Homo sapiens: one gene and its partners. The protein of the gene in region 1 purifies or fractionates together with the protein of each later gene. This does not show direct contact. Each region holds a gene or a part of one and is shown in the gene's direction. Other genes may lie near its edges. The genes, in order: CHCHD4, MOCS1, STK39, SLC25A31, RMDN1, OPA3 and ZNF518B.

Region 1 (3,500 bases):
CCCTCAGCATAGCTGTGACTGAACTTTTCTAAATATAAACAAAAAGTATAAAGTGATCAGAGATGCCCGCAGCTTTCACAGGGCCACGTTTCTGCAGGTCCGGCCTCTGCGCCCACAGTGGCCACTCACTCAGAGCCATGCACTGTGGCTCTCTGCCAGGCACTTTTGGCCATACCTGAAGAAGTCTTCTTAAATGCTTGGCACCTCCTATCCCCTTCCAGATGAGGGTCCCAGTACCCCAGATCTTCTAGGATCAGAATGCATGGTCAGTTGGTCTGTAGAATTTGTCATTCACCTTCACCAGGAAAGTACAAGAAAGATCTTGTTTGTTTACTTGGCAAACATTTCACTTGGTTCTAAGCTTTTTGGGGCCGAGGTTGGGTCAGAATTTATTGTATTTATTCATTGCCCAAGGTGCACAAGCTCTCAGGCAGTGCCCAGTCATGCTAAGTGCTCAGTGTCAGCTGTCGATTATTCTTGTGCAAATGTTGGTGCGGGGCAGTATGGGTGTGTAGAAAGGATCTCCAACAGTGTAGACTTCAGAGCATCCTGTCCTGTGTGGCCCAGCAAGTTACTACTCACAGCCTCAGGCTCACCACCATTAAAAGGGGATGCTGCTACCTCCCTCTCAGGGTGGCGATAGGATGGAGGAATGAGCTCACACGGAGGACCAAAAGATGGACTGGCTCTGTCTGTTCTCTGGGGACAGCTGGAGAAACTGATGACCCACCGTGCAGTGTGGGGTACTGAGGACAAGGTGCTCCTTGCCCACAATGGGAATATCTGACACATACCTGTGGTGTGGTTAGCTGATGGCCAAAGTTTTTAGGGAGGTGAGGTAAAGTGTTGACAGCTACAAGGTGTAGCAGAGAGGGCTGTAAGGACCTCCCTTCTGCTTAACTCAGCCTTGGTTTTCTGTTGTACTCCATGGGGGCTGAGGGTGATAATACTTCATAGGGGGTCACTCTAAGGCAGTGAATGCACCCACCCTGGTTTGGCCAGGACTGATGTGCTTTTCTGTGCTCACCCAGCCTCCAGTGAGGAGAAGCTCCTAATATAAAATGCATTTGACTCTCACTGGTCTGTTTTCCTGGAGCCCTCAGACCTTCCGGCAGCCAGGCCCCAGGGTGAGGGCTCTGGTTGTGAACAAGGTGCTCTGCACTTTAGGCCTGCTGGCTTTCCCATGCTGGTCCTCACAGGACCACAGTCCTGACCCTAACCACTGTTGGGTTTGTCCTAAAAAAATAAACTGCAGATGGTCACAGTTAAAAAGATCTGAGAAGTGCTCCTCCCACTGCCCCCCTCCAGTTATTATACTTGTTGGGAAATGGTCCCCCGGCCTCTTGGACTGTGGGGAGTGGAACGGCTGCAGTGTTCCTCACCTTATGACCCTTCCTTCTTCCGGCCACGATTAGGAGCCCAGAGGCCTAGTGGGGGTGCTGGCTGTGGTCCCTCTCAGACCACCTGTGTCCTCAGCCTTTCAGAGGCAGGGGCCTGTGGCCGCATCAGCTATGTGGGCTGCAGTGATCTGTAGGCTGAGGACCCACATCACTGCACACTCACTTTGCCAATGTGCTCAGTCTTCCTTCAACTTTTATGCATTCTGAACCCTGTGGGTCAACCCCAGGACACTCTTTTTCTTCAGTGCTTCTTTTCCTGCCCTGCCCCTTATCCATCCGCTTTTGTTTGCTACCCCTAGCATATGAGAGCAGTTTGATAGTCACCTCACATAGGGATGGCATATGGGAGAGTCTTCAAACTTGGTTTGTGTGGCGGCTGCTTTGGGTTTAAAGCTGATTCACTGCTCTTGAATGAAATATTTCTTCCTCTGTTCTCCAAACACTAGGGAAGGATCGAATCATATTTGTAACCAAAGAAGATCATGAAACTCCAAGCAGTGCAGAATTGGTGGCTGATGACCCCAACGATCCATACGAGGAGCATGGTGAGTGACATGTGGCCTCCCAGGGACCCACACCAGGGCACTGGGGAGAAGCTCAGTGTTCTTAATTCCTTTCCCATGTTTTCCTAGCCAAGGCCAAGTTTTCAGGTATCTATTCTCAGCCATAGACCATCTCTGAGGGCAGTGGTTTATCTTCCTCAGAGGTTTGAGGGACTGTGCTTTCCAGCCTTGTTCTGATGTACTTCCCTGGCACAACAGCTAAGTTTTGGGAGAGGGTATTAGTAGATTCCAGCAGTTATAGGTAGGTTAAGGTGACAGGGCTTTTGCTCAGACAAGTTGCCAGACTGAATTCTGCCACATCTACCAACTTTATTAGCAAGTAGACAGTCATTCACCTTGTTCTGTAAGGTTGGTGAAGTCCCTGCTGTCTCTAACTGCTCCAGCAAGCACCTTACATGAAAAGGTCACTTGCCACAGACAGCTTTCTAGCAGCAGGAGTCAGCTAACCTAGTCAGAGCTGTTGCTCACTCCTTGGTTAATGGCTGAATATAACAGTGGTCGCTTAGGCCTAGGACATTGTTCCAAAGGATTTGGGCTGCTAAACTCACTAGATACTTACTACTGCAGACCGTGTGAGGTGGATGTGTGTGTGCAGTGTCCATGAACAATCTACGTATTGTACAGTAGTCACTTCACCAATCAAAAACCACTTCTGATGTCCATGATGACAACTAATCTTCTAGTGCTAACTGGTAATTGAAGAGCTTGAAGCAGCCGCCTCGAGAATATGGGCTCCTGATTGGAATTTCTCAAATGCTAACTGATGTGTGTATATTCCTTGTAGGACCCTTCACTTGTTGCCCTGACTGCTCCTAGGGGTTAAAGCATAAAATACATATCCAGCACCCAGTGGGAGCAGTGGGAAATGCAGACGTTATACAAAGTGTTAGCATTCTGAGAAAGACAGCTGCAAGGGTAATCTTGATCAGGGCTTACATGTCAATTCTAGTACCTTGCTTATCTTTAGATCCATATTAAGCACATTTCATTAATTGATCAAGACTGTGGAGGCCTGCAGGACAAATCGGGCCTTGTTTTGTTTGCCTCACAGTGTTATTAAAAGCAGTACGTATCTGCCTTTAGACTGGTCTGCCCCCTCCAGATCCCACCATTCTTTCCTGTCCCTGTTGTTTTTTTTTACCTGCTTCTGTCACTTGCAATGTATCTGCTTGGATAGTAGGTATACCATATGATGCATTTGGCTTTACAGCCCCTTATAGTGAATACTTTGTAAAAAGAAGCCTATAAAACGCAAAGAACTCTGGGACCCAAGTTTCAAGCTCTTAAACTGCAAAATTAGTAAGTGGACCAAGTAAGCCACCATTTTATGCCATCTACCTGCCTTCCAGCATCCAGCTCTGCAGCTGAGATGGTGCTTGGAATAGCTAAGAGTACCAAGAAAAAAGGTGGCAGAATTAATTTTCCTAGAATCAAAACATCAAGAGGGCCTTAAAGATCATCTGATCCAATGAGAAAACTGGGGGCCTGGGCGGGGGCGGAGACTGACTCAGCCAGAGACTGGAACTTCAGGCCTTAG
Region 2 (3,397 bases), on another chromosome or scaffold:
CCTGGGACCCGCTCCATGTTCAGGGTCTAAGACCCAGAATGAGTTTCTCCAGCCAGGTGGCCACTTTATGGAAAGGATGCAGGGTCCCCCAGACCCCTCCTCTAGCCCAGCAGCGGCTGGGGTCTGGCTCCTTTCAGAGACACTACACTTCCCGTGCAGACTCAGATGCCAACTCAAAGTGCCTTAGCCCAGGTTCCTGGGCTTCTGCTGCCCCCTCAGGACCCCAGCTAACCTCAGAACAACTAACTCATGTGGACTCGGAAGGACGGGCAGCTATGGTAGATGTGGGCAGGAAGCCAGACACAGAGCGGGTGGCTGTGGCTTCAGCCGTGGTCCTCCTGGGACCGGTAGCCTTCAAGCTTGTCCAGCAGAACCAGCTCAAGAAAGGAGATGCCCTAGTGGTGGCCCAGCTGGCTGGAGTCCAGGCAGCCAAGGTGACCAGCCAGCTGATCCCTCTGTGCCACCACGTGGCCCTGAGCCACATCCAGGTGCAGCTGGAGCTGGACAGCACACGCCATGCCGTGAAGATCCAGGCATCTTGCCGGGCTCGGGGCCCCACCGGGGTGGAGATGGAGGCCCTGACCTCTGCTGCAGTGGCCGCCCTCACCCTGTATGACATGTGCAAGGCTGTCAGCAGGGACATCGTGTTGGAGGAGATCAAGCTCATTAGCAAGACTGGTGGTCAGCGGGGGGACTTCCATCGGGCTTAGCACCTGCCCTTCTCACCCATGGCCCACCCAGGCCTGGAGCTGGGATGCAATGTAGGCTGAGGGAAAGACGTCAGGTTCCTTTAATCACAGTCACTGTTTGTTTACCTTGAGCAGTAAACCCGAAGTCAGCCTGCTCTACTACTAACAAACAGGCCTGCTGCTAGATGATCTCTAATGACCAATGGGGCTTCCTTTCTATAGGGAGGATACCAGCAGGCCCTTAAGCCTTCCAGGACACTAAGGTCGTGGGAGCGGGACTGCAACAAGCAATGCCAGATAACTGAGAAATCATGTTCTTTGTGGACTATTTCAGACAACCAGGTTCCGACAGTCCAGCCCAGAACTTTTCCTTCTCATTTTGGGTTTTCTCTTCTCCTGCTTTCCTGGGGAGAGATTAAGCGCTCATTAAGCAGAGGAGCCCACTTTGAGGAGAGCAAAGCACAAGCTTGCCTGAAGAATGGATCCCAACTTCTCCCCGGCAGCTCTGCCTCCCTAAGTCTGTGAAGCCGCAGCCCTGCCCTGTCCTGTCCTGTCCTGACTTCATCTCTCCTTCTGCCCAAGTCTGTGTCCCATCAGACTTGCAGCCTTTCAGCTTAACAGTTGCCCGGTCCTGCTGGCCCCTTTTCCTCTGGCCCCCCTCTTCTGAAACAGGATGTGCACACATGGGCCATAGCCCTAAGGACTCCTGCCAGACCACACAGCCCACACCTGGCCCTGTTCACGGCTGTTCCACCCACCCCTCTTTATTCTGGAGCATATCAGGGAAAGAAAAGTTGATGATAGATTGCCTTCACCCTCACAGCGCACAAATAAAGCTACGATGCCAACTTTGCAGATGCAAGAATGAAGACACTGTGTGGGTAGGGCACTGAGCTGCTGCAGTTTCACAGGGAAGGCTGCACCTATCAATCAATCAATCAATCCTATCCCAAGACACAGTTCCCTGAGGGAAGAAGAGGAGGGACCTGGAAAGGCCTAAGGGTGTACTCTCTGTATAGCCCCGCTATGGGAAAATAAAGTGGAGTAGGGGGCATAGAAATGCACCATCTAAGGGAAATCTTTTGTCAGGTGGTGGCCAGGGGTGTTCAAAGCTCATTGCTTGCATTACCAGCTATTAGAGAGATCAGAGAGGGCAATTAATTAGAGGCTCCTGGTTCTCACATCCCAAACACACACAGTTCTGGCCTGCTGGGCTCTCTAACTTGGATGTCTTTGAGTCCTCAGTGGTGCCCCCTGCCTGCCTCCCCTCTGCCCTATGCCAAGGTGTGCTGGCAAATATTAAACAACCAGCTCTCTGGAAAAGACAATTTGTGATATAAATACTCCCATGTTGAATAATTTCAAGCTACCAGTATGTCAAATGGCTTGCAAAATTTCTGAAAATGTAAACAATTGGTTCTCACAGAGCTGGTACAAGCTGGCTCCAGCACACTCTCAGCCCACCCCAGATCCCCTCATAGGAAGAAGGCACAAGTTTAAAGGCAGACTGGGTAGGGATGGTATGAATTTAATATTTTTTAGTATTACAATATATTCTTATAAAAAAGGTGCAAGTGAAAAAGGACACTGTAGATTATGTCCATTAGCCTCATTTGTCATCTGAGGCAGCTGGTGAGAACAGCCTTGGCGTGAAGGCATCCCTGGTAGAAGTCGGGGGAGATAGATAGTCACAGTTCCCCAGTTGGTGGAAATGGGATGGGAGTAGGGAGAGGCTGGAACAGACCCTTCCCCATTCACCTGGAGAATTTTCTCCTCCCACTGCCCTAAACACTTTATTTCCATCACAGGGGAGAAATGCTGCTGAGAAGGTTGTGTTTGTTAGGTTGATGACGAATTTTACATTGGCCACAAAATTAGCTAGAGAAACTTATCTAAAGGTGGCAGGAGCAGTGGGGAGGGCATGAAGAAAGCAAGACCAAGAAACAACCTATTAAGGACCAGCTCAGCCACCCCGACTGGGCACCAGCCCCTTCTTACTCAGTTGAGTATGAGTCCATGGTCCAAGGCACTGTTGGAGATCTGGCTACAGTGGCATCTAGCACCAGAGCCACTGGCCAGATGTAGAAAATAAATAGAAAAATATCTTTCTTTTAGAGTGAGAAGGCTGAGCTCTGGAACAACGTATTTGTGTCCTCTGTCAACAGTTGAACCAAATTCTGCTTTTCTGAAGATCAAATGTATCTTGAACAGCTTCCATAGTCCTTTTGTTTCCAGGTGCGTATCCAGTCTTCCATGGTGGGTGGGAATGCCAGACACGCTTGTGGAGCCCTCCCCTGTTCCCTGCCCCTGAGGGGGTTAGGTTGACATCAGCCTGGTCAGTTTGGGAGAGGACCTTTAGAGGCCTCACCCACAACCTCCCATCTTCCCCAACACTTGTCTTGCAGTGGGAGCTCTTGGGGCTGCAGATGCATATAGCCAAACTCTCTGCAGCTGTTCTGCCTGGAAGCCTTCATCTTGCCCTCACCTGGGTTCCAGGATGGCCTCTTCACACCTGTGTCAGCCAGGCTTGCACTTGCTCAGATCCCTCCCACCAGAACACACACACACCGCCCGCCCCCTCAAACCAACGCACATGCTGGGCTCACCGACCCTGTGTTTCTTCCCCCCCGCAGCTACTACGGTCCCAGCCCCAGGAGTTGGATGCAAGTGAAAGGCAGAAGATAGGCAGCTGAGAGTAGGCCCAGCTC
Region 3 (3,500 bases), on another chromosome or scaffold:
GGTTATCTCGTTTCTTCCTTTCACTGCTAAATTGTTGGAAGGAACCTCCCATTCCCTCTCAGCCCACTGCAGTCTGGCTTCTGCCCTTTCCCTAAGAAACCCAAGTTACTCTCTGAAATCACTGTGACTCTTCTGTGGCCAGAGCCAGTGGACACTGCAGTCCTTTTCTCTGCTCTCTGCAGGGTTAGGTGCCATCTTTCATTCTCCTTTTGGAAAGGCATTTGCTTGAGCTTCCATGCCATGCCTTCCTTCTGGACTTCCTGTACTCCCTTGCCTGCCCCAGATCCACATCTCTGTCTGTCTGAAGCTTCAATTACCACATCAAATGCTGAGGGTCTTCCTGACTGTATACCAGTGTTTGGACTACCTTTTTAATGTCTTCGTTTGAATGTTTCACAGGAACTTCATACAGTTAAACTCATTGTCTCTCCACCCTGGCCTCAGTCCTAATCTTGTTTCTTCTATATTCATCATCTTTAGAGCCCTCAAGGGCAAAACCTGCTGGCCATCCTATACTTTCCTGTCTTTGTCCATCTCTCACATCTGTTTGGTCACCAAGTCCTAAATACTCCACCTCCTTGAGATCTTCTTTGATTTGACTCTGACTCTTCATGTCAGCCACCACTGGTTTAGTTCAGGCCCTTATCGATTCTTATTTGGATTATTGTAATAATTTCCTAACCAGGTTCCTTTTTTCCATTCTTGTTTCTGGCTGTAGTGTGCATTGCTACCAGAAAGATACTGCTATACCAAAATTCTTGATCACGTTGCTCCCAGGCTGAAATGCCTTTAGTAGCTCTCCCGTCACCCTCAAGACTTAATTTGAAGCACAGTGTTTAAGGTCTTTTGGGAATTGTCTCTTGCCTCCCTTTTCAGCCACATCTTGTAATTTCCAGTCTCAGGACAGACTCTCCAGCCAGTGGGAACCTTTTGCAGTTGCTGAAATGCCTCTTCTAGGCAAGATTTCCCTCTGCTTGGAACACCATTCCAAGACCCTTCCCTTCCATTTTTCATCTATGTAGCAAAGAGCTCTGTCTTTTCTTTTAAATATTGCCCTTATTGAAGTATAATATGCATGTGGAAAAGTGTACATATAAAAAATGTATATCTTGGTGCATGTTCATGAATTGAACACACCATGTAACCAGCACCCTGACTGGGCCTCTCTTCTCATACCCTGAACAAGTGATTTCTTGTCACACAAACAATCTCTGCCTCTAGAGCCCCCCTCCCCCCTTGCCCTTCAGGCTCTGTTGGGTCTTTCGCTCCCTGGCAGTTGTCACACTATCTGCAAATTGTATTTTCCTTGCCAGCCTGGCTCTAGACTGTTAAGTCTTCCTTGAGGACAGGGTCTCTCATCTCCCTACCCTGCATGTCATAATAGATATTTAATAAATGTTTTCTGGATGAAGTTCTGAGTTTTGGGGATAAATACTCCTTCCTCACCTTGTGGAGGAGGAACATTGCCTGACGTCTAAAAATTTGCCTCACTGGATCCTGAGGATTTGATCTTGCCCGTGGTTAATGATGGGGTTTATTTAGTTGCGTTTGGGCCAATCAGCTTAAAGGGCTCTGTAGAAATTAGCTCATTAATCCTCACAGATCAAGAGTAAGCACTTTGAGTGCGTCCACCTGCCTGTGTTGTGGAGGTAGGCAGGCAGAGGCCTGGCTCTCCTGAGGTCTTAGGACTGAGAGGTGGCCTTTCTGGCTGGATTAAAGGACCCAGAGCTCCCTGCCACAGTTCTGGCATCCGTAGACATTGTAGGGTGGAGTGGGGAAGTCCCACACTGCCCTTCAAAAGCTCTAGAGCTTTCTTTTCTTTTGTATATCAGTGATCTCTCTCTCTTGCTGTTCATGTATTTATATATAACACTCACCTTGAAGTTCTGTGGAGCCTCTTCCTGTGTAGGAATCAGGGCTGCTGGAGACGATCAGGGATGCAGGTGAAACACAGGAGCAGAATTGCAGAACAAGTGGCTTTCAAAGGTTGTTAGGATGGCAGGAGTTCTATTTTTATAACTTATAAGGGACTGACATGATAGGATGGCTGTGGTACCTGCTAAGACCATAGAACCGGGTCATTCTAATAGATGTTATAATTCCTTTACAGTGTACTTTTTGGGAAAGTTTTTTTTTCCTATTTAAATAAAATTCTCCATGTAATCATGTGAAGTCATACGTTTTCCTCTAGGATAGTTGTGTTTAGATTATACCAAAACAGCTCTTAGTTGAAGTGATTCAAGTGTTTCTTTTTTCCCTATCTGCCATCAATTGGCCAAGTTTTTGATACTAGACAAGAATTCAATATATTAATTAAAAAGTCATTTCAGACTTGGCTTAACTGAAAAGCAGAAGAGAAAAATCCTTTAGAGAATGGATTGGCATACTTTATTTCTAGAGTCGATTTAGATAAATACTTTGGAATCCGATGTGAGTAAATGATATGTTTCACATTTCTTCTCACTTGCCAAACAGTTATTTGAGAATAAACTCTGGCTTAGCTTTAAGAAACTTCTTGGACATTGAGGATTGAGATTAATTGACCTTTTAAACTGATTGTGTATTTTGATATATGGGAAAACATTTTAAGATAGAAATGGTAGAGACCTCTACATTCATATTATCCCTGACTTTATTTTCAAACTTCTTCCAGGTAAGTGGCATTTAGTATAACTCTCAGAAGCCTAGTATTGGGGGTGCTCATGTGATTCTTCCCTTAGGTAAAAAATATACATTTTATTGACATTTATGGGTTTAGGTTTCTAACTTTTAGTTACCACTGGAGCTATTTGTCAGAAAAAACTAGATGGAAAGTAGAGGTGGATGACTTTCTGCCCTGTGAATGATAGATCTTCATTCAGGGAGTATTTTGGAGCCAGTGACCTGTGACAGTTGTGAGACTTCTCATAATCATTCTGTGGATGGTTGGGGTCTTAGAAGAAGTAATGATTTTGTTTTGAACTGGTTGCATCAGTTTGAACCAGAGTTTGTACTAAGGGTATTCCAACTGCTTTATTTCCTACTCTGTTTAGTCTGGGGATTGAAAAAGGATTACATTTTGGGTAGGTTGGTGCCTATTGACCTATCCTGTGTAGCTTAGATTTTAATTTGAATCATCTGGTTCTCTTTCTTTCTCTCAGGCAATGTCACTATCTCTGTTTGTTTAATTATGGGGTGACTCAAGAAAGCAAAGGAAGAGGAGCAGCAGACGGGGTTTCCTGGGGAAGGAATGGCAGGTCATGGCTGGTTTTTATAAGTGAGTTCCTAAGTGAGAAGTGGTACAAGAATATAGAGAGAATTAGGAAATTTAATTTTAGAAGAGACCAAAGGAAAAAAAATCCATCCCAGCTGCTTTGTCTTGTAACTGAAAACTCTCTAATGGCCAAAGTTGAAGAAACTTGCCTATGGTCCCAAAGTCCTTAGAATCCCAGGCTCCAACCCTTCATGCTAAAAACTCTCAATAAATTAGGTATTGATGGGACGTATCTCAAAATAATAAG
Region 4 (4,187 bases), on another chromosome or scaffold:
CAACAGACTGAATGCAAAAGCAGTAATGTGAATCTAGCTGTCTTTTATTAAATCAGACATTAGAGATTCAAAAATATAAAACAATACTATTTTTCTACTACATTTTTTATTTAAAAGTCGTACTTATGCTATCCTGTAATGGATTATTTTTATTTTAAATGAATTAAATATTTTTAAATCGTGTTTTAATTTCTGAGTGGTAAATGCCAATATACATAATAAAAACGGAAGCTTCATTGTGTCTTCAATAATTTTTTTTAAGAGACAGGGTCCTGCTCTGTTGCCCAGGCTGGAGCACAGTGGTGAGATAATAACTCACTGCAGCCTACAACTCCAGGGCTCAAGCATTTCTCCTGTCTTAGCCTCCTAAGTAGCTATACTTAGGACTACAGGCTTGTGCAGCCACGCCCAGCTATTTTTTTTTTTGTAAAGGAGGGGTCTCACTATGTTGCCCAGGCTGGACTTGGCCCAAAGTTTTGGGATTACTGGTACCTGGCCTTCAATAATTTTTCAGAGTGAAAAAGAGGGGTCCTGCAATCGAAAAGTTTGTGAACTACTCTTCTAGATAGGTCATTGGCCCTCAACCCTAGAATTAGAATTACTTCAAACACTAGAATTACCTGGAGAATTTAAATACTGATGCCAGGCCTCACTTCTAGACGTTCTGATTTAATGTGCAGGGCCTAATCCCAAGCATCAATTTGAAAAACAAAACAAAACACCCCTCATCCCCTTGAATGTGCAGTCTGGATTGAGAACCACTGCTCTGGATATTATCAATTTAAATACAATATGAAAAAGAGGAACATGTATTATGCTATGGGGGCACAATCATCAAAACGACACAGAAAGTGACTAGACAAAGGATCCCTGCTTAATTAAAGGAACAGATTAAAGCAATTTCCAAGGGAATTTGAAGCATTAACAGGCACATAGGGTGAAATTTAAGGGGAACATCACTTGAATCACACAACAGGTAAGACTGTCTTTTTTAAGATGCCAAGAAAGGTCAAAGGAACCATCTCTGGTCAAAAAAAACGTAACGGATTAAAGCGATTAAGAAAGTGAAGGGGGTAACACTAGGAACTAAAACTAAATTCTGTTAATCTCACACCGCTGGTTTACTGCTCTGGCCTAGTCTCAGCTACTAAATTTCTTCACACAGAACTGGCTCTCCTCGGCCCCTCCCCTCGCCTTTCCTGCTCAATGCTCACCGCCTCCGGACCCCTCCCTCATCAGAAAGCCCAGGCTCCGCTCGTAGAAGTGCGCAGGCGTCACCGCGCATCCAGGAGCCACGTGTCAGGAGTCACGTGTCAGGTGTCACGTGTCAGGCGTCACGTGGCTGGAGGCCGTTGGAGCGCCTGCGCAGCTTTTCCGCACGCGCCTCGCCGGCGCGCGGCTCTCTCAGCGTCCCAAGAGCCACTTTCTCGCCAGTACGATGCTGCAGCGGTTTTCCGGTTTTCCGCTTCCCTTCATCGTAGCTCCCGTACTCATTTTTAGCCACTGCTGCCGGTTTTTATATCCTTCTCCATCATGCATCGTGAGCCTGCGAAAAAGAAGGCAGAAAAGCGGCTGTTTGACGCCTCATCCTTCGGGAAGGACCTTCTGGCCGGCGGAGTCGCGGCAGCTGTGTCCAAGACAGCGGTGGCGCCCATCGAGCGGGTGAAGCTGCTGCTGCAGGTGCAGGCGTCGTCGAAGCAGATCAGCCCCGAGGCGCGGTACAAAGGCATGGTGGACTGCCTGGTGCGGATTCCTCGCGAGCAGGGTGCGTCAAGGCAGGCCGCCCCGACAGCCTCTCCCGGCGCCCTCGTCAGCTTCCCAGAGAAGAGGGTGGCTGGGAGGGGCATGATTGTGGGCCCCACAACCACAGCTACAGCTGTCGGTGATGAATTTGCTTCTTACCCTTCCAGAATTTAGTTTCTGAACCTAACAGGCTCTGCTTTTCCAGGGCCGCGTTGGTCCTGACCAAGTCCTGGTACCGGGGAGACCACTGCCTTCTCTTTCTCTAAATCTGCAGTGCGATTTACACCTTGGTGCACCTGTGCCAGGTCCAGAAGGAGAGTGGTTGACCTCCCAGGATTGAGGGAGATGCCATTAGGCACTCTGCTATAACTAGTGCTCTAAGTTGCTTAAATATTTGTTGGTATAATCACCCCACTATGCTCCAGCATGGGCGACAGAGGAGACCTTGAGTCAAAATCTATATGTATATTTGTTGAAATAGTATGTCTAAGAGAAGTACAAATATGGGAGCACTAGGGCTTACCAGTACTCTGAAACCTATTAGTGAAAAGAGGTTCTGCTTATTCTACTGAAGACCAAGGGGGTACTTCGTTCTGCCCAAAATTCAAGGGGGCCCTAAAAAAAAAAAACCCAACCCTCAGTCATCAAGATAAAAAGTATTTTAAGGCCAGGCGCGGTGGCTCACGCCTATAATCCTAGCACTTTGGAAGGCCGAGGCGGGCGGATCACTTGAGCTCGAGCTCAGGAGTTCTAGACAAGCCTGACTAACATGGCGAAACCCAGTCTATGCTAAATATACAAAAATTAGCCGGGCGTGGTGGCGCACGCCTGCAGTCCCAGCTACTTGCGGGACCCTGATGCGGGGATTTCAGGGAGCCCAGATCGCGCCACCGCACTCCAGCCTGGATGAAGGAGTGAGACCCTGTCTCAAAAAAACAAACAAAACTTTAGGGTCCTTCCGTTTCCGAAGCCCCTCTCTTTCAACTAGAGAGAGAGCTGTTCTCCTTTCTCTTTATTTTTTCTATTAAACCTCCACTCCTAAAAACAGGAAAAAAAAAAAACTTTAAACTATTTTAATGCAATCTTTTAAAAATCAAGTCATGCAAAAGAATTCATAACAAACACAATATATACAAGTTTAAAATAAAGATGGGATCAGTATTACCAGTTTTTCTTTTTGCATCAAGCACTGTCCTTATTTAAAATTTCATTTTTGTTCATCATTGATTTTTTCTATTAATATTGGAATGATTTAAAGAAATAACGAAAGTGCTTTGTGAACCATTGCTGCAAAATGGCTCCCAAGTTAGCTAAAGGGATAAGTCTATCAGATATTTTATATAATCCACCCATATAGTTGGATTCAATAGAAAAATCTGTATGATCTTTTAAAAAGAAATAGACATTTATTGTGTATTCTCAAGAAATGAAGTGGCTTCAACTCCAGTGCAGACCTTTCTTTTAGTCCTGTTCTAGGGCCAGATACTGTCCCATTTAAAAAAGCACCTTGTACCCTAGGAATGCTAGGGATGTGGTTACAACTCTTCCAGACCTGTGGCGTGGAGTATATGGGGTCAGGGGTAGAAACTTAATGCATCATCTGGGAGCTAAGCTCAGGTCTTTCATAGTTTGCCTCTCTCCACTCATTCATTTAATTAAAGCAAGCTTCTCATTTCCCCCAAGATTTTTTCAGGAAAAGCAAGGAACCTGTCTCTTCTTCGTTTATATTCTAAGACTTCTGAAGAGAAGTAGGGGCCTCTCTATTATTAGCTTTTCTGCTTCAAATATTTTGTCAGGTAAAATGAAGTATTCTGGTCAGATAGGGCTGACTAGTGCTAATTTATTTCATATTTTAAATGTTTTTCACAATATTTAAACCTAAACGTATTCAATATGGCCCTTGTAAGTTGATATCATTCTCAGATGTATCCTGGTCCTTGCTTTAAGTTCCAAGATGAGAGGATCATAAGTAGAACTTGAAGATGTTTTCTATTATATATAAAGCTTTATGAAGGTACCATGGTGTATCCTATGCTAAGAGATCAGTAATTTACAAGGATACTATTGCCATCTAGAGGCAATTTCGGAAACTTGTGGGGCAATTTTTTTTTATTTAGCACAAAGATAGAGGGGTATAATCCTACTTTACAATGGTATGAAAGGCAAGGGCCAGGAATGTTAAACGTCCTGCTGCTATATGCAGGCCAGTCATACATGATGAAGATTTATCCCGCAACCTGAATGACTTTTAGATCTCCCCTTCGATTTTCGTGTAGCAGTGAAACCTGTTTATGTTTCTCTAAGCCTAGAAATAACTTAACTCTGATTTACTTATAAACACATTGTCTGGGGCATGATTTTAGTATACACTGATTCCAGTAATGCAGCTACCATATAAGGAAGTAGAAAAAAGATCGTACTTTCTTCTGTTCAGAAGTTTACTA
Region 5 (3,500 bases), on another chromosome or scaffold:
AGAGCAATATCATATGAAGAAATTAATGAGTGAAGCTTTTTTGTTTTTTACAATCCTCACTTTTTAATTATAAAGGAGAGGGTGATTGGGGAAAGAAGCAGAGATTTGATTTTGAATAGATGGTCTTATTCAACTTCTGATAGAAGAATTTGAGAACATGATCTAAAGATTGCTAGTTATCTATTGATTTCATTTATCTGTGATTATCTTTCCGTTAAAAAAGCAGATAATTGAGAAGCCCTGCACTGTTCTTTTTTTTTTTTTTTAAATGTATTTATGAAGAAGGACAAAGCAGAGAACTTGGTTTTGTTACTGGCTGAATGATTTATTTTGGCAAATACTTAAAATAATTCATCTTTTTAAAGCAACCTAGACTTTAATTCTCACAGCAGCCTTATAAAATAGTTAGGACAAGTCTTATTATCTTATCACATTATAATAATTTTTGAAAAGAAGTTCACAGAGTTAAACTTGAAAGTCAAAATGTTAGAGTGGAGATTAGAACTTATTTTTTTTTTGAGACAGGGTCTCACTCTGATGCTTAGGCCACAGTGGCATGATCACAACTCGCTGTAGCCTCTACCTCCCCGGGCCCGGGTGATTCTCCCACCTCAGCCTCACAAGTAGCTGAGACTACAGATGCACACCACCATGCCTGCCTAATTTTTGTATTTTTTGTAGAGACGAGGTTTCACCATGTTGTCTGGGCTGGTCTTGAACTCCTAGGCTCAAGCAATCCACCTGCCTCAGCCTCCCAAAGTGCTGAGATTACAGGCATTAGCCACGACACCCAGCTCCTTATCTCTATTTCTTCTTTGAATCTATCACATTTAGTTTCAGTGTATTTTGGTAGCATTATAGAAATGATTGTAAAGATGTAGTGCTTTCTGAAGTAACAAAATTCAGTACTTTGAAAGGGAAAACCAGAATTACTTTTGGCTTTATCATAGTCCATTTTTTTCTTGTTTATTTTTTTTCCAACTTTTATTTTAGATTCAGAGGGTACACGTGCAGGTTTGTCACGTGGGTAAATTATGTGTTGCTGGAATTCGGTGTACAAGTGATTTTGTCACCCAGGTAGTGAGCATTGTACCCAGTAGGTAGCTTTTTGACACTCGCCTACCTCCTGCCCTCCCCATTCTAGTAGGCCCCAGCGTCTATTGTTCTTGTCTTTGTGTCCATGTGTACTCAGTGTTTAGTGCCCAGTTAACAAGTGAAAACATGCAGTATTTGGTTTTCTGTTCCCATATTAATTTGCTTGGGATAATGGCCTGCAGCTGCATCCATGTTGCAGCAATGGATGTGATTTGGGTTTTTTTAAAAATGGCTTTATAGTATTCCATGGTGTGTATGTATCACATTTTCTTTATCCAGTTCACCATTGATGGGCATCTCAGTTGATTGCATGTGTTTGCTAATGTGAACAGTGCAGTGATGAACTTAAGGACGTGTGTGTCACTTTGGTAGAACAATTTGTTTTTCTTTGGGTATATTCTCAGTAGTGGGATTGGTGGATCAAGTAGTGGTTCTATTTTAAGTTTTTTTAAAGAAATCTCCAAACTGCTTTCTACGGTGGCTGAACTAATTTATATTCCCACCAGCAGTGTATAAGTATTCCCTTTTCTCCACAACCTCACCAGCATCTTTTTTTTTTTTAATTATTTTTTTTTGAAATTTTAAGAATAGCCATTCTAAGTGGTATGAGATGGTATCTCATTCTGGTTTTGATTTGCATTTCTGTGGTGATAGTGATGTGAAACATTTTTTCATGTTTATTGGCTGCTGCTTGTATGTCTTTTTTTGAGAAGTGTTCATGTCTTTTGCCCATTTTTTAGTGGGATTGTTTTTTGCTTGTTCAATTGTTTTAAGTTCCCTATAGATTCTGGATATTAGACCTTTGTCAGATGCATAGTTTGCAAATGTTTTCTTTCATTCAGTAGGTTGTCTGTTTAAGAAACCTGTCGATAGTTTCTTTTGCTATATAGAAGCTCTTTAGTTAGGTCCCATTTACCTATTTTTGTTTTTGTTAGAATTACTTTTGGAGACTTTGCCATGAAATCTTTGCCAGGGCCTATGTCCAGAATGGTGTTTCCTAGGTTTTCTTCTAGGTTTTTATAGTTGTAGGTCTTATATTTAAGTCTTTAATCCATTTTGAGTTGATTTTGTATATGGTGAAAGGGGTCTAGTTTCTATCTTCTGCATATGGCTAGGCAGTTATCCCAGCACCATTTATTGAATAGGGATTCTTTTCTCCATTGCTTGTTATGGTCAGCTTTTTTGAAGGTCAGATAGTTGTAGATGTGCAGCTTTATTTCTGAGTTCTCTAACCTGTTCCATGGCCTATGTGTCAGTTTTTGTACCAGTATAATGCCGTTTGGGTTACTGTCTCGTAGTATAGTTTGAAGTCAGGTAGTGTGATGCCTACAGCTTTGTTATTTTTGCTTAGGATCGCCTTGGCTATTTGGGCTCTTTTTTGGTTCCATACAAATTTTAGAGTAGTTTTTTGTAACTCTGTGAAAGATGATATTGGTAGTTTGACAGGAATAACAAATAAGAATCTGTAAATTGCTTTGGGCAGTAAGACCATTTTATCAATATTGATTCTTCCTGTCCATGAGCATGGAATGTTTTTCCATTTGTTTCTGTCATCTCTGATTTCCTTTTCATTGTGGTAAAACATCTAACTGTATTCCTAAGTATTTTATTATTTTTGTGGCTCTTATGAATGGGGTTGCGTTTTTTATTTGGCTCTCAGCTTGGGTGTTATTGGTGTATAGAAATGTACTGATTTTCATACATTGATTTTGTAACCTGCAAGTTTACTGAAGCTGTTTATTAGTTCCAGGAGCCTTTGAGCAGACTGTTTATGGGGTTTTCTAGGTAAAGAATCATATCATCTGTAAGGAGAGATGGTTTGAGTTCCTTTCTTTCTATTTGGATGCCTTTCCTTTCTTTCTCTTGACTGATTGCTTTGGCTAGGACTTCCAGTACTATATTTAAAAGGAGTGGTAAGAGTGGGCATCCTTGTCTTGTTCCATTTTTCAAGGAGAATGCTTCCAGCTTTTGCACATTCAGTTGTTGGCTGTGGGTTTGTCATAGATAGCTCTTATTATTTTGAGGTGCGTTCCTTCAGTGCTTAGTTTGTTGATGTTTTTTAAGGTAAAGCGATGTTGAATTTTATCAAAAGCCTTTTCTGTGTCTTTTGAGATGATCATGTGGTTTTTGTTTTGTTTTTAGTTCTGTTTCTGTGATGAATCCCATTTATTGATCTGCATGTTGAACCAACCTTGCATCTCAAGAATAAAGCCTACTTTTGTGGTGTATTATCTTTTCAATGTGCTGCTGGATTCAGTTTGCAAATACTTTTTTGAGGATTTTTATGTTTATATTCTTTTTTCTTTTTCTTAAGACAGGGTCTCACTCTGTCACCCATGCTGGAGTGCAGTAGTGCAATCTTGGCTCACTGCAACCTCCGCCTCCCAGGCTCAAGTGATCCTCCC
Region 6 (4,015 bases), on another chromosome or scaffold:
ACAGGTGCCCGCCACCATGCCCGGCTAAATTTTTTTTTTTTTTTAGTGGAGATGGGATTTCACGATGTTAGCCAGGTTGGTCTCAAACTCCTGACCTCAGGTGATCCACCCTCCTCAGCCTCCCAAAGTGCTGGGATTACAGGCGTGAGCCATGGCGGCCAGTCCTCTGTTCCTGTTTTCTTCTGTCCCTCTGCCTCCGAGAATCTCTCAATTACCCATCAGCACTCCATCATCCAGGAATTTCTCTCAACCCCTTCCTGACATTGTTTATATGATTTTACTCCCTGCTGGGTAAGAAAGGACAGTCTGGGACATGTCCTTAAATTTATTTCTGAACTAGCTCCCTGGGGAACCTACCTCCTAATGAAGGAAGTTGGGTTGCTTGAGAACGGGTATGGTTTTATTGGCCAAGATGCCAGGCTATCAACCTCTGCAGGAACCTTGTGCCACCCCCTGCCCTGCTCTGGGCCTCAGTTTCCTTGTCAGTTACTTGGGAAAGGGTTGGATTCGCTGCTTCTGGGGGTGAAATGCACCCTCAGGCTGGATTTAGCATTAATAATGCAATCATGACCTGTATAGTAAGAAGGGCTATTTACTGAGCGCTTAACTATATGAATGGCACCATTCTAACCACTTCCCATGGTCCACTGTTTTACACTCAAGATTAGCATAGAAGCCTCACAACAACCCAAAGAGGCAACTGCTATTAGGATTCCCATTTGGTAGACGGTAATACTGAAGTCCAGAGAGGTTATGCCACTCATCTAATATTACACAGCGAGGAAATGGCAGAGCTGGGATCCCAGCCAAAGTCTGTATGACCGCGCGGCTTCCTCTTAATCCCAATGAGAGCCCTAGCTTGCAGAGGAAGGTGTATTTGGGGCTCATAGGACTAATTAGGACTAATTAAGAGCCTCCTTTGGGTGGGGACGCCAACTCGGAACGTGACATCACGAAGGAGTACAGTGACGTTGGCCAAGGCGGGCGTGGGAATCCACACGCCTTCCAGCATCCGTTTAACGGCACCGCCCCCTGACCCGCCTCACTTCCGTGTATATTTGCATATTCAGCGAACGGACGTCGCTACGCCAGCGTCGACGGGGTGACGTCAGGATGCGCCTCTGAAGTTTCCCTCGAGCGTACGTACATACGTACTGACGCACGCATGGCCACGAGAGGGCGGGGGAGGAGTGAAGAGGTTGAGGCGCCCCGCCCAGTCAGCAAGGTTGCGCGTGCCCTGTGAGACCGCCAAGATGGTGGTGGGCGCGTTCCCTATGGCGAAGCTGCTATACTTGGGCATCCGGCAGGTCAGCAAGCCGCTTGCCAACCGTATTAAGGAGGCCGCCCGCCGAAGCGAGTTCTTCAAGACCTATATCTGCCTCCCGCCGGCTCAACGTGAGTCTGACCCGAATTCCCTCCAACCTTTTTCCTTTCTCCAACCCCTGTCAGGTGGTTGCTTAGGGGATGGACTTCTGTCTACGACCAATCACAGCCCGAACCGGCAAAGTCCAGTGGCCAATAGTGGGGGGTTTCTGATAGAGGGGCGTACGGGTGGCCCAGTAGTGAGGGCGGGGCGGGGCGTAAGGGGCGGGTCAAGGAGCCACCACGCGAGTAGGAAATGCCAGCCGATAAAGGAAGAGAGCGCTTGGAGACTGATGCCCTGTTAAACCAATAGTGTGAGAGATGGGAGAAATTTGGACGGGGCTTTCCAGGATAGAGGAGCTAGGGGAGGGGCTGAGGAGAAACCGGACGGGGTCCTTTGCCCGGCTGTCCTTGGGCAACTTCATTTCAAAAGCGGCACCGTGTGCCTCAGTTTCCCCACTGATCTAGGAGGTGCTTGTATATCCTCCGTTTAGGACGTCGACGTGCCTCAGTTTTACTGTAGTCAATAAGTCTGGATTAGGGGCATGGTTCGGGGGTGAAGTCTGGGTTCTGGAGACATGGCCTGGGAATCCGGAAAAGGACTTTGAGCCAGAGAGGACATTCATCTGTGTACTCATTAATGCGCTCATACGCCGTCCTTTCATTCGGTTGACAGACTATGCGGCCTTTTTGCTCAGCACTGGGAGATATACTCCTGATCCATCACTGTCAACCCAGAGTGGTCGGGAAAGTGGGAGCCCCGGAGCTCAGAGGAACTGGCTGACCCAGGGACCTGAGGCCAGCAGGGCTGCCTAGAGGGGGCCGCCCGAGCTCAGATCTAAAGGGCATAGTAAGGTCCGGCGCGGTGGCTCACACCTGTAATACCAGCACTTTGGGAGGCCGAGGCGGGCGGATCACATGAGGCCAGGAGTTCGAGACCAGCCTGGCCAACATAGTGAAACCCGGTCTGTACTAAAAATACAAAAATTAGCTGGGTGTGGTGGCGCACACCTGTAATCCCAGCTACTTGGGAGGCTGAGGCAGGGGAATCGCTTGAACCTGGTAGGTGGAGGCTGCAGTGAGCCTAGATTGTGCCATTGCACTCCAGCCTGGGCGACACAGCAAGACTGTCTCAAAAAATAATAAATAGAAATAAAGGGCTTAGTAAACACCCAAAATATAAACTACTTTAAAAAGGTGATCTTGCCGGGCGCGGTGGCTCACGCCTGTAATCCCAGCACTTTGGGAGGCCGAGGTGGGCAGATCACGAGGTCAGAAGATGGAGACCATCCTGGCTAACACGGTGAAACCCCATCTCTACTAAAAATACAAAAAAATTAGCCGGGCGTGGTGGCTGGGCGCCTGTGGTCCCAGCTACTCAGGAGGCTGAGGCAGGAGAATGGCGTGAACCCGGAAGGCGGAGCTTGCAGTGAGCCGAGATCGTAACACTGTACTCCAGCCTGGGTGACGGAGCAAGACTCCGTCTCCAAAAAAAAAAAAGGTGATCTGTGTTGTGCTACGTGGGACATAAAATAAGGGAATTTAGCATCATTGGCTGGGTCAGAGAACCACTGAAACCGCCTTTGCAAAATTATGACTGACACAGCGAAAGAGATCTAAGTTAACTTACTCCATCTTGCTTCTAACCTCCAAGCTATCCTTGTTCATTCCTGGGCAAAGGCTGAACTAACTTTGGGAGAGATTTAGTTTGTAGTTTATAGTTTAAACAAACATGGTAACAGCCCTTTCCCAAAGCAGACCTCCTTCTTGTCTGGCGACTGGATTGCCTTTGTAGGACTAACATTAGCCACAAGATTAGAAATTATGGTTTAGGAGTCATGCAGCTGGAGGGTACAAGATTCTGACCCTCCCTAAACTGCTCCTAAGATCAGTGCTTGAGATATTTCACAGACCCTGCACTTGATGGATCAGCTGGCCTTACCCAGATCAATAAACTGGCCCATCTGATCTTGTGGCCCCCCAACCCAGGAACTGACTGAGCGCAAGAAGACAGCTCCGACTCCCTGTGATTTCATCTCTGACCAATCAGCACTCCTGGCTCACTGGCTTCCCCTCACCCATCAAGTTATCCTTAAAAACTCTGCTCCACCGAGATCGCACCACTACACTCCAGCCTGGGCGACAGACCGAGACTCCGTCTCAAAACAAAAACAAAAAACAAAAAAACTCTGCTCCAGCTGGGCCCATTGGCTCGCATCTGTAATCCTAGCACTTTGGAAGGCTGAGGGGGGTGGAGCACCTGAGGTCAGGAGTTTGCAACCAGCCTGGCCAGCATGGTCAAACCCCGTCTCTACTAAAAATACAAAAGTTAGGCGGGCTTGGTGGCGGGCGCCTATAATCCCAGCTACTCGGGAGGCTGGAGCATGAGAATCGCTTGAACCCGGGGATGGAGGTTGCAGTGAGCCAAGATCGCGTCACTTCATTCCAGCCCAGGCGAAAGAGTGAAAATCCATCTCAAAAAAAAAAAATAAAATAAAATAAAAATAAAATCTCCCTGAATGCTCAGGGAGACTGATTTGAGTAATGGTAAGACTCCTGGCTGGGGCGCGGTGGCTCACGTCTGTAATTCCAGCACTTTGGGAGGCCGAGGTGGGTGGATCATGAGGTCAGGAGTTCGAGACCAGCCTGACCA
Region 7 (3,500 bases), on another chromosome or scaffold:
TCTGTGCTTGAAACACCCCTTTTCCAGCAGCCACAATGCTCACTGTGGTTGCCCCCAGGTCTCTGCTCAGACATGAACTTAGCATGAGGCCTCTCCTGACTCTCCTCACCTCCACACCCAGCCCCGCAACCTCATCACCGTGGTCTTCCCTGTCCTGTTGGCCTTGCTTTTTTCCCAAGTATCTTACCACCATTGGCAAATATGTAATCTGTTTCCCCCTGTGCAGTGTGTGCATCACCAGGAGAGGGACTGATTTGCTTTCATTCACTACCTTACAGCACTTTTGAATAATGCCCAGCACATAGTAGATTCCCAATAAGATGCTGCAGCAGGCTTGCTAACATTGTCAGTATTATGGGCTTCTTAGCACTCATGAAGGCAAATTAAGCATGTAAGTGAGAGAGTTGGTATTCAAGCTGATAATAAGCTATAATGTAGAAACAAATGTGAACACCCCAGGCCAAAGCCCTAGCTCTACCACTTGATAACTAACTTGTTCAAAAATTGAACTGACAGTGTCCTGTATAACATTTTTGTGAAGGTAATATGAAATTATACCTATGAAAGATGTGCTCACTGACACTTGAAAATGACTTTCCCTGACCAAAGGCTGTCCTGAATGGCTGCTATGATGTCCTTGTTCCTGGTATATCTGTGTTCATTCATGATTTGGCTAAAGTGGTCATTTATAGGGGGCTGAGTTTGAAAATGTTTTCAATTTAGGCTTACTTGCCAACTCTGTTGTGTTATTGTTATAACATGCGTCTAAAATCATACGTTGAGATTTACCATAAAATGTCCAAGGCCATTAAAATATAGGATAAGTTTGTTAATAGCTTAGCCAAACTCTTATATTAATCATGCTTTATAATTTTGTTTTCCTTTAGTGTTACCTGGAATGTCAGAGAGCTGAAAGCAGTCATATTTTGGGATCATGCACCTACTGCGGCAGTATATAAAGAAAGATAATTAAGTATGCACCCAAGAAGTAGCTGCGCCCCTACCCATCACAAACTGTATAGAAGGATATCTCCTAAGGATTTTATCATGTGAAAACTTTCTGAATTTTAGTTGGCTCTTTTTAGAAATGCAGATAAGATGAAGGATATTGGACAGCAGCTATACACTACACACTTGAACGGCGGACATAATTCCTTGACCATGTCACCCAAACAGCCTGATGCTAATGGAGCACCTCGGCCAAATAGACAAGAAGCACAAACCCTTTTGTATCAAGGCTCAGAGGCAGAGGCTGCCATGATGACCATTGCTACATGTGCAAAGTGCAAAAGTGTTCACAAGATCTCTCTTCAAGATTTGCAGAAGGGTACAGGGAAGGACGGTATGTATGTCTGCTTCCAGTGCAGCCTCGGTGCAGCTCCTCCCAATTTTCATTTTGTGAGCAATAATTCCAGTGCGACTCATGTTGGAAATAAAACTGAAAACTTCTCAAGTTCTGTCAATAGCAAATTTAAGGTAAGGAACTTTAAGCCAGGCAAATACTATTGTGATAAATGTCGATTCTCTACAAAGGACCCGCTGCAGTACAAAAAGCACACCCTTCAACACGAGGAGATTAAATTCATTTGTTCTCACTGCAGCTACATTTCGTATACGAAAGGAGAGTTTCAGAGGCATTTGGTGAAACACACAGGCATATTTCCTTATCAGTGTGAGTATTGTGACTATGGTGCTATTAGAAATGATTATATTGTCAAACACACGAAGAGAGTACATGAAAGGGCAGGTGCGAAACGGCCAGTCAAAGCTGTTGCCAAGCTGGAGCCAAAAAGAACCGGAACTTCAAAACAAAACCCAGAGCTTCTAAAAGCTTCCAATCCACGGACTACATTTCAAAATAAGTGGTCAGACCAACTGTCAGGTTTCTCTCTCCATGCAAATAAAGACAAAATGCACAATATCATGTTGTTACCTGAACCAAAGGAATACCAAAAAGATGTAGTTTGTATTCCAAATAAAATGACCCTGTCTGAGCCAAATGAAGTCAACCTATTTGAGAACAAAAATGTTGAAGTAGAAGTGTTATCCCCTGCAAAAGAACCTGTTCAGCCAGGTATGCCATTGACAGTTGTTGCACCAGCAGAACTAGTTGTCCCTGCAAACTGTTTAGCCCAGTTGATAGATGTGAAGGTTGTCAATGGTACACAGCAGCTTGTTCTGAAACTGTTTCCGCTGGAAGAAAATAATTGCCTTGAAGCTGGGAGGGATAATGGAGGTAATTCTGAACGTATGGTGAAAGAGAAGGGTTCAAATGAACAAGAAAAAGTACTTTCTGCAGAAAAAACAAAGTCACTGACAGTTGACGGGAATGTTGGAAAACTCGTAGGCATTGATAGTTTTCAACCTTCAGTTCAGAAACAGCTTAAAAATGTGAAATGGGTAAGGTCTTATGATTTTATTATGCCAAATTCTAGTGTGCACAACAATGGAAAATCCTTCATTAATTCGGAAACAATTGAGGATTTTCAGAAAAAAAATAATTTGTATCCACATAGAACTGCTTTTCCTTCCGTTGCCTTAAAAGGTCATTCTCTAGCATCTGTATTTAAAAACAGTGTTTTACGTAGTCTTGGAGCTGCATCAAACCCTTTTCCATATAAAGCTGCTGTTTGTTTTGCTGAAAGTGGAAGAAATTTACACAGTAGCTCACAGCAGTTACTCCCATTTGCTGCATCACCTGCAACCTGTTCCTTCTCTGGAGAAAAGGGCTTATTGCCTGTAAGTGAAAATGACTTGGAATCTACAAGTAAAGTCAATATTCCTGTAAAAGTGGTTTCCTCTAATAGGAAGCAGGAAGATAACCAGACAGAGGAACACAAGGCAGTTTCAACTGTAGGCCAGATTTCCTCTCAACATAAGAGTGAGTATTTACATATAAACATAACTGGAGAAGATAGATCTCAACAGCCTGGGGATAAGCCTTTGGAATTAAAGAATTCTGAAAGGACTAACAACACTAATGATGGCCCAGTCATCTCATCAGTATTTTCTCTGAGCTCTGGATCTGAAAATGTCCCCGAGGGCATTAAGTGGAATAGCTCAACGTCTAAAATAAAGTCAATTGAACTGTTGCGCAGAAAGATAGCTCAGTTAATTGAGTCCTGTGGGAAGCCGTCATCTTTGGCTTCAAATAGTGCACATCGTCGCTCTGTAGGGCAGGCATCAAAGGGAACTTCAAAAGCTACCTCTGAAGGTATTCAAGAAATCAACGTGTCACTCACTGGTCTTGGCCATTCCACAGGTACTCTTCAGAAACCTCCGAATGATGGTGGTATTACTGGTAATAGACAGCTTACTCATCAACAAATATATCCACACTTTGCAGATGGCAGTAATAGGAAAACCAAAAGCAGAGTGGCCAGGAAGGCTCATGTTGCCACGCCAGTGTTAATCCCCAAAGGGGCTGTGTTGAGGGTTCTTAATTCCTCTGAGAATGCCCACATCATAGAGGCTACATGTGAAGCACCTGTCAGCATACC

Evidence for each region.
Region 2: the proteins of CHCHD4 (region 1) and MOCS1 purify together in Homo sapiens (co-immunoprecipitation; 2 studies listed by BioGRID and IntAct, with this or other methods). This does not show direct contact.
Region 3: the proteins of CHCHD4 (region 1) and STK39 purify together in Homo sapiens (affinity purification with mass spectrometry; one large-scale study listed by BioGRID and IntAct). This does not show direct contact.
Region 4: the proteins of CHCHD4 (region 1) and SLC25A31 purify together in Homo sapiens (affinity purification with mass spectrometry; one large-scale study listed by BioGRID and IntAct). This does not show direct contact.
Region 5: the proteins of CHCHD4 (region 1) and RMDN1 purify together in Homo sapiens (co-immunoprecipitation; one large-scale study listed by IntAct). This does not show direct contact.
Region 6: the proteins of CHCHD4 (region 1) and OPA3 purify together in Homo sapiens (co-immunoprecipitation; one large-scale study listed by IntAct). This does not show direct contact.
Region 7: the proteins of CHCHD4 (region 1) and ZNF518B purify together in Homo sapiens (affinity purification with mass spectrometry; one large-scale study listed by BioGRID and IntAct). This does not show direct contact.

Annotation. Positions count from the first base shown.
Region 1 is NC_000003.12:14,114,871-14,118,370, reverse strand, and holds part of CHCHD4 (mitochondrial intermembrane space import and assembly protein 40), read left to right. Parts: intron 1-1,846; coding exon 1,847-1,945; intron 1,946-3,500.
Region 2 is NC_000006.12:39,903,670-39,907,066, reverse strand, and holds the end of MOCS1 (molybdenum cofactor biosynthesis protein 1), read left to right. Parts: coding exon 1-710; 3' UTR 711-2,897; downstream 2,898-3,397. UniProt on the Homo sapiens protein: Isoform MOCS1A and isoform MOCS1B probably form a complex that catalyzes the conversion of 5'-GTP to cyclic pyranopterin monophosphate (cPMP).
Region 3 is NC_000002.12:168,237,596-168,241,095, reverse strand, and holds part of STK39 (STE20/SPS1-related proline-alanine-rich protein kinase), read left to right. Parts: intron 1-3,500. UniProt on the Homo sapiens protein: Effector serine/threonine-protein kinase component of the WNK-SPAK/OSR1 kinase cascade, which is involved in various processes, such as ion transport, response to hypertonic stress and blood pressure.
Region 4 is NC_000004.12:127,729,013-127,733,199, forward strand, and holds the start of SLC25A31 (ADP/ATP translocase 4), read left to right. Parts: upstream 1-1,387; 5' UTR 1,388-1,533; coding exon 1,534-1,765; intron 1,766-4,187. UniProt on the Homo sapiens protein: ADP:ATP antiporter that mediates import of ADP into the mitochondrial matrix for ATP synthesis, and export of ATP out to fuel the cell.
Region 5 is NC_000008.11:86,498,687-86,502,186, reverse strand, and holds part of RMDN1 (regulator of microtubule dynamics protein 1), read left to right. Parts: intron 1-3,500.
Region 6 is NC_000019.10:45,582,003-45,586,017, reverse strand, and holds the start of OPA3 (optic atrophy 3 protein), read left to right. Parts: upstream 1-1,215; 5' UTR 1,216-1,253; coding exon 1,254-1,395; intron 1,396-4,015. UniProt on the Homo sapiens protein: May play some role in mitochondrial processes.
Region 7 is NC_000004.12:10,443,927-10,447,426, reverse strand, and holds part of ZNF518B (zinc finger protein 518B), read left to right. Parts: intron 1-887; 5' UTR 888-1,098; coding exon 1,099-3,500. UniProt on the Homo sapiens protein: Through its association with the EHMT1-EHMT2/G9A and PRC2/EED-EZH2 histone methyltransferase complexes may function in gene silencing, regulating repressive post-translational methylation of histone tails at promoters of target genes.